2 linked regions of the Homo sapiens genome follow. The protein of the gene in region 1 purifies or fractionates together with the protein of each later gene. This does not show direct contact. Each region holds a gene or a part of one and is shown in the gene's direction. Other genes may lie near its edges.

Region 1 (3,500 bases):
AAGAAAAATGAGTCTTAACTGTGAGGAGTTCTCTCCTGAAGTTTTACATAAAACCCTTCTAATTTGAGGGACAAATCACAGCTTCTGTCAGCTTTTCTTGCCTTCCTTTAAATGCCATGGGAAATGCAGTGACCACAGTTTCTGCCTCTGTTATACAGTAAACCCATGACATTGTCTGATTCAACCAAGCATGAATCGAAAATACTGTACAATAGTCTCAGGATTTGAAACCTGTGGATACAGAGCACCAACTGCATTAGCTAAGGTCTTTGATGGATCCTGTGCAGATGCTGATTTGAGCCCAATCCTTATCAGTGCTCTTTGAAGACTGGAAGGTTTTTTGTTTGTATTTTTTTTTTTAGACGGAGTCTGGCACTGTTGCCCAGGCTGGAGTGCAATGGCACTATCTCGGCTCACTGCAACCTCCGCCTCCCGGGTTCAAGCGATTCTCCTGCCTCAGCTTCCCAAGTAGCTGAGATTACAGGCACCTACCACCATGCCCAGCTAATTTTTGTATTTTTAGTAGAGACGGAGTTTCACCATGCTGGCCAGGCTGGTCGCAAACTCCTGACCTCAGGCGATCCGGCTGCATTGGCCTCCCAAAGTGTTGGGATTACAGGCGTGAGCCACTGCGCCTGGCTGAAGATTGGAAGTTTTAGTTGTTTTGATTTTTATTCATCCCAAAGGAACAGGAAAGCTATGTAACTTTTTTTCAGTATAGTTCCTACTGAATAGTTATCTAATGGCTCCTTGAATGAGAATGGAACTCTTCAGTTTCAAGGCCAGCGTTGTATGCAAAAGGCCAACACCCAGAGTGTTTGGTTCTTTTTTCCCTGATTTATTTTAAAACATTTTATTGTAAATTGGTAATTTATAGTTGTATATATTTATGGGGTACAAAATGATGTTATGATTCATGAATATAAAGTGGAGCAATTAAATCAAGCTAGTTAACATATCTATCACCTTATACTTATTTTTTGTGGTGAGACCACTTGAAATTTACTCACAGCGATTTTTTTCTGTTTTGCTTTTGAGACAGTCTAGCTCTGTCACCCAGGCTGGAGTGCAGTGGCACAATCTCGGCTCACTGCAACCTCCACCTCCCGAGTTCAAGCAGTTCTCTGGCCTCAGCCTCCCAAGTAGCTGGGATTCCAGGTTTGCGCCACCATGCCCGGCTAATTTTTGTATTTTTAGTAGAGATGACGTTTCACCATATTGGTCAGACTGGTCTCAAACTCCTGACTTCAGGTGATCCACCCGCTTTGTCCTCCCAAAGTGCTGGGATTACAGGCATAAGTCACCACCCCTGGCAACTCATAGCCATTTTAAGACCGAGAATATACTGTTTTGTTTTGATTTTTTTTTTTTTTTTTTTTGAGACGGAGTCTTGCTCTGTTGCCCAGGCTGGAGTGCAGTGGTACAATCTCGGCTCACTGTAACCTCCATCTCCCAAGTTCAAGCGATTCTCCTGCCTCAGCCTCCCGAGTAGCTGGGATTACAGGCGCCCGCCAGCACGCCCAGCTAATTTTTGTACTTTTAGTAGAGACGGGGTTTCACCACGATGGTCAGGCTGGTCTTGAACTCCTGACCTCATGATCCGCCTGCCTTGGCCTCCCAAAGTGCTGGGATTATAGGTGTGAGCCACCGCGCCCATCTGGAATACACTATTATTAACTATATTCACCATCTTGTGCAATAGATGTCAAAAAAACCCTCACTTATTCCTACTACGACTTTGTATCCCTTGATCCTCATCTCCTCATTTTGCCTATCTGCCAGCCTTTTACCACCATTCTGTTCTCTGCTGCTGAGTTCTATTGTTTTAGATTCAACAGTTAAGCAACAATATGCAGCATTTCTCTTTCTGTGCCTAGTTTACTTCATTTAGCACAATGTTCTCCAGTTCTGTCCATGTTGTCACAAGTGACAGAATTTCCTTCTTTTTTAAGGGTGAATAGTATTCCATTTGTGTCATTGTGTATGTATATCACATTTTCTTTCTTTCTTTTTTTTTTTTTTTGAGATGGAGTCTCGCCCTGTCATCCAGGCTGTAGTGCAATGGCGCAATCTCGGCTCACTGCAACCTCCGCTTCCCAGGTTCAGTCAGTTCTCCCTGCCTCAGCCTCCTGAGTAGCTGAGATTACAGGCACCCACCACCAAGCCCAGCTAATTTTTGTATTTTTAGTAGAGACAGGGTTTCACCATGTTGACCAGGCTGGTCTTGAACTCCTGACATCAGGTGATCCACCCGCCTTGGCCTCCCAAAGTGCTGGGATTACAGGCGTGAGCCACTGCACCCGGCCGATATGCTGATTTTTTTTGTTTGCTTGTTTTGAGACAGAGTTTTGCTCATGCAGTGGCACAATCTCAGCTCACTGCAATCTCTGCCTCCTGGCTTTAATAAATTCTCCTGCCTCAGCCTCCCGAGTAGCTAGGATTACAGGTGCGTGCCACCATGCCCGGCTAATTTTGTATTTTTAGTAGAGATGGGGTTTCACCATGTTGGCCAGGCTGATCTCGAACTCCTGACCTCAGGAGATCTGCCTGCCTCGGCCTCCCAAAGTGCTGGGATTACAGGCATGAGCCACCATGCCGGGCCAAAATACTGATTTTAAAACGAAAGTATGAGGCTGGACACGGTGGCTCATGCCTGTAATCCCAGCATTTTGGGAGGCCAAGGCGGGCAGATCATTTAAGGTTAGGAGTTTGAGACCAGCCTGACCAACATGGTGAAACCTAGTCTCTACTAAAAATACAAAAAAAAAAAAAAAAAAAAAAAAAAATTAGCCGGGCGTGGCTAGGAGGCTGAGGCAGGAGAATTGCTTGAACCGGGAGGCGGAGGTTGTAGTGAGCTGAGGTTGTGCCACTGCATTCCAGCCTGGGTGACAGAATGCGACTCTGTCTTGGAGAAAACAAACAAAACAAACAAGGAAAACAAAGTATGCAAAGTGGAAAGACTGCTGATGAGTTTAGGAAATAGTAAATAATATTTTAGGCCAGTTCTATGCTAACTAGATTTTGTGATGTGGGGCAAATTATTGAACCTCTCTATGACTAGCTCCTCATCTGGCAAATGAATTATGTCAAATTCTACTTCATTCTTCCTATTTTTGCTTTTCTGTTAGGCAGTAGAATATGGCATAATCAGATGGACAGAGGTATTTAGATTCAGTGTAGATTCACTATGATCTTTCACACTCTACTGGCCTGAGCCACAGGCTAAATACCTTTCCTGTCTTCTTGATTTACAGACTTCTGCCTCCTTTTTCCAAGGGCATTTTATTCTTTGTAGACAGAGTATGCTAGGTTTTTGTTCACTGATGAATAAGAAAGCTGTAAACTAGCCACTTTTCCCTCGGGCACTTGTTTTAGGGCTAGAAATAGTCTAGAGGATAAAAAGCACTGGCAATATTAACAGTTTTAGAAGTATAGCAAAGCTTACTAGCTTGAACTGTAAAGATCTTTATTGTGATTTTATTGTTAAAATATGTGTGCTA
Region 2 (3,730 bases), on another chromosome or scaffold:
ACTGTTGGCATTTTAAAAAATCATTATTACATTTGCTTATAGGACAATAGGTGCATCCTTCAGTGATTCATTGATGTCCTTTTGAGACTGACCATATGAAACTGACATGGGGATTTTAGTATTCAAGTTGGTAACTCTGATTATTGAATCCTTTCAATACTTAATTTCCTCTTAACAGATTAAGATAAAGAATCTGAAATAATAGTTACAGTAGAAGATAGCACCACCCCCAGATCAATACTATCCTCCTTAATGCTAAAAGTAGTCACTTTAGGTAAGTCATTAGTAAATGCATGAACCTGAAGATAACAGTTTTGAAACAATCTCAAATTTTTTTGTCTCTGTTATAGATTAGTTAAAGATGCTAATAAACTCTTTGAGTCATATCTGATTCTCTCAGATATATCAAGTGTTTTTGCTACTTTAATTATCTCTTTACTATTGCCATTACCTTTATCTACTCAATCTAGACCTTTTCATGTAAGGACTGTATTTTGATCATTTCACCATATTTTCCCTCCCTTCACATCATTCTTTTTAATTCGACATTTGGATGTTAGACTTACTGTTCTCTAGCTATTTTGGTTTCAGTAATGTTACTCTCTTGATACAAATTTGGCCTTTATTTTTCATTAAGGAGAGCACTTATTACCATTTATGTATTTATTTATTCATTATGAGAAACAACTTTTGATATTCTCAGTTTTCAATTGCAGAAAATGATTCTAGGCACCAAAAGCAGTTAAAAGTCTGCAAATTAATATGTAGTACACAAAAGGCCAAAGTCAAGGGAGACAGTCTGTATGAAGGTTTGGGTGGGTGGGTAGGTGGGTGGGCGTAGAGGAAGATGTGGAATGAAAGCAAATTCTCAGCTATTAAAAGCTGTCCATGTAGGGTAGAGATGAGCCTTTTTGTCTAAGAGGGTGAAGAAGGAATAAATGTTTTGTTTTTCTGTTTCAACATATTTTGTCCCCATCCCTCCCCTGTCATGTCTTTGAACTAAGGCCATGGTGCTTCCTTATAAAAATTATACAGTATGTTTATTGGAAGGAGTTTTACAGTGAATTAGGTGAATTCAGAATTTTAAAATGATGTGAACACAATTAGATGAATTTTTATGAAAAACACTTTGAATCTAATCTTTGATCTTTCCTGTTCAAGACATAAGCTTTCCTTTGAATGGTAGTACTTTAACTGTAATACATTTTACTTAAACATTTCAGTAAAATTCTATGGAAAGTTAGACAAAATAAAGAGCTCAGGATCCTCTTTCAGTCTACTGTTAAGTTTATATTGTGGAAGTTGGGGAAAGTTTTAGACAGTTTGTTTTCCGTTAAAACACACACTAGAGGGGGCAAATTTCTTTTTTTTTTTTTTTGCTTTTTGTTATGTTAATGAGCAAATAATTTACTTTTAAGATCACATACCTTGACTTTTTTCTTTCCTTTTTTGTCTTCTTTCCATTCTCCTCTTTCCCTTTTCTTTTCTTCTTTACTTAGATTGCTCCTTTCTTTCAGTTTGTATTGGCAAAATAAACATTGGTCTTTAGAAAATGAAATTATAGCCTGATATTCTTATTGAAATTTATTTTTCATTATATTTATATTTCTCATTTAACATGAAGTTTTATGCTAACCTCTCCTCCTTCTCAAGGCTCCATCCCTATCTTGGTCCTTTCTTTGAACTTGGCTTTTATATCCCCTAGGCTTCAACAGTTTTTTCCTTGTATACCAATCTTTCATAACGCTTTGTACCTCAAAAAGGCCTTTAAAAACCAGAAGAAAAGTTACTACCCTATTTCTCCCGATTAGTTTGTATCCAAGTTTATTCAGGTTCCCTTAGGTTATAGGTAATTGCTCGCCTCAATGTGTCCTCATTAGCCTTCTTTGAATTACTTTATTTTATTTTATTTATTTATTTATTTATTTATTTATTTATTTATTTATTTATTTTGAGACGGAGTCTCGCTCTTTCGCCCAGGCCGGAGTACAGTGGCGCCATCTCGGCTCACTGCAAGCTCCGCCCCCCGGGTTCACGCCATTCTCCTGCCTCAGCCTCCCGAGTAGCTGGGACTACAGGCGCCCGCCACCGCTCCCGGCTAATTTTTTGTATTTTTAGTAGAGACAGGGTTTCACCTTGTTAGCCAGGATGATCTCGATCTCCTGACCTCGTGATCCGCCCGCCTCAGCCTCCCAAAGTGCTGGGATTACAGTCATGAGCCACCGTGCCCGGCAATTACTTTAAAGACATTTTCAGACAAAAGTAATACATGTATACAACGAATTTTTTTAAATAAAAAATTTGGCTAGCCAACTGACTTTTTATTATTTTGTTCATCAGACACTATAAAACATGGTTCAACTAGTTTTTTTTTTTTAACAACTAGTAAAGTTACTATGTGTCAGGCAGTCCATTGTCTTTATGTTAGTTAACTAGTTCCACTAATGTGTACCTATTAAGTGAAGTATGAACTACTCTATGAGCAATCAGTAAATGTTGAACTAAATTAATTTAATTTTAAGTAAAATATTCCTAATTACATTTCTCTGTATAGCATCATCATTAGCCATCTTAATCTACCTCAAAAATGACCATAAAATACAGTGCTTGAATATCATGAGATATTTCATCGCTTAACTGTCTAGGTCCTTTACAGTTAAAGCAAACTCACAAGTAAATATACAAACTGACTCTATTTGAGACAAAACCATCATTTCAATATGAACCCTTTACATTTATTTAAGTAGTAATGGATTTTAGGTGGCTACTACCTTTGCATTACAACAATTTAAAAGTACAACATTGTGTTGTTAATGCATGGTGCTGAAATTACATAATGAATTGGCATGAGAAAGTGTTCATCAATTTTAAAATGAATAATATGGTATCATTTTGATTGGTATTAAGGCAATTAAATAATGCTCGGCTTTGACATTTTACTATTTTATTTGGGTATTGTACCTCTCAAATTGGTAATTTTCTCTTCCCTTAAGAGTCTACCTTTTTGAGCAAAATAATGTATTAAGTAATAGGCTGCCTATTTTTTATTGTTGTTTATATGATTCACTACGTCCTTTTGGCCCACTTTGAAAAACAAGCAAAAAAGTTTTTAGGATTCAGTTATTCATTCTTTTTATCTTAATAGGTCATCTAGTATAGCCAGGAAAATATTTGATTCTTTAATTTGCTACAAAACTTATTTATTGTTTGAACAAAATTTTCAATCTGTAGCATACAATTTCTTTACTTAGTGGATGAGAACATGGAATTATAATACTTGTAACAACTTCTCAGCCTGCTAATTTTGTCTACCTGGTGTTTCACAAGGGCTAACATGATGGTGGCAGTGGTGGTATTTGTGTGTTTGTGTATAATTACTTTCTAAGATAGAGTTAGACTTTTATATATTTGCTTTTTTCATTGGTGAAATCAATTATTATGCAATCAGTTGATTCCACATGAGAACAGTTGGTATTAAATACAATTTAATAGGGAAAACAATGACCAAGTATTTATTAATGAAATCAAATTAGATTAATATTAAAGTATTGCTGTATTTTTCTGTTTGGATTAAGATAGTCCAGATTCCATTGTTCATTATTGAAATCAAATGGTAAAGCTAAATCTTGTGCTCAAAATTAAAACATCTCCATGTTGATCAAAATGTCCTAAGTTGGAATACTGGCTACTTAAATGTATCTTTTAAGAAGTTCAGGTGACACTGCTTTTA

What was found. Proteins that work in one complex are often made in the same cells at the same time.
Region 2: the proteins of ARMC1 (region 1) and MAP2 purify together in Homo sapiens (affinity purification with mass spectrometry; 3 studies listed by BioGRID and IntAct, with this or other methods). This does not show direct contact.

The regions. Positions count from the first base shown.
Region 1 is NC_000008.11:65,627,678-65,631,177, reverse strand, and holds part of ARMC1 (armadillo repeat-containing protein 1), read left to right. Parts: intron 1-3,500.
Region 2 is NC_000002.12:209,427,019-209,430,748, forward strand, and holds part of MAP2 (microtubule-associated protein 2), read left to right. Parts: intron 1-3,730. UniProt on the Homo sapiens protein: The exact function of MAP2 is unknown but MAPs may stabilize the microtubules against depolymerization. They also seem to have a stiffening effect on microtubules.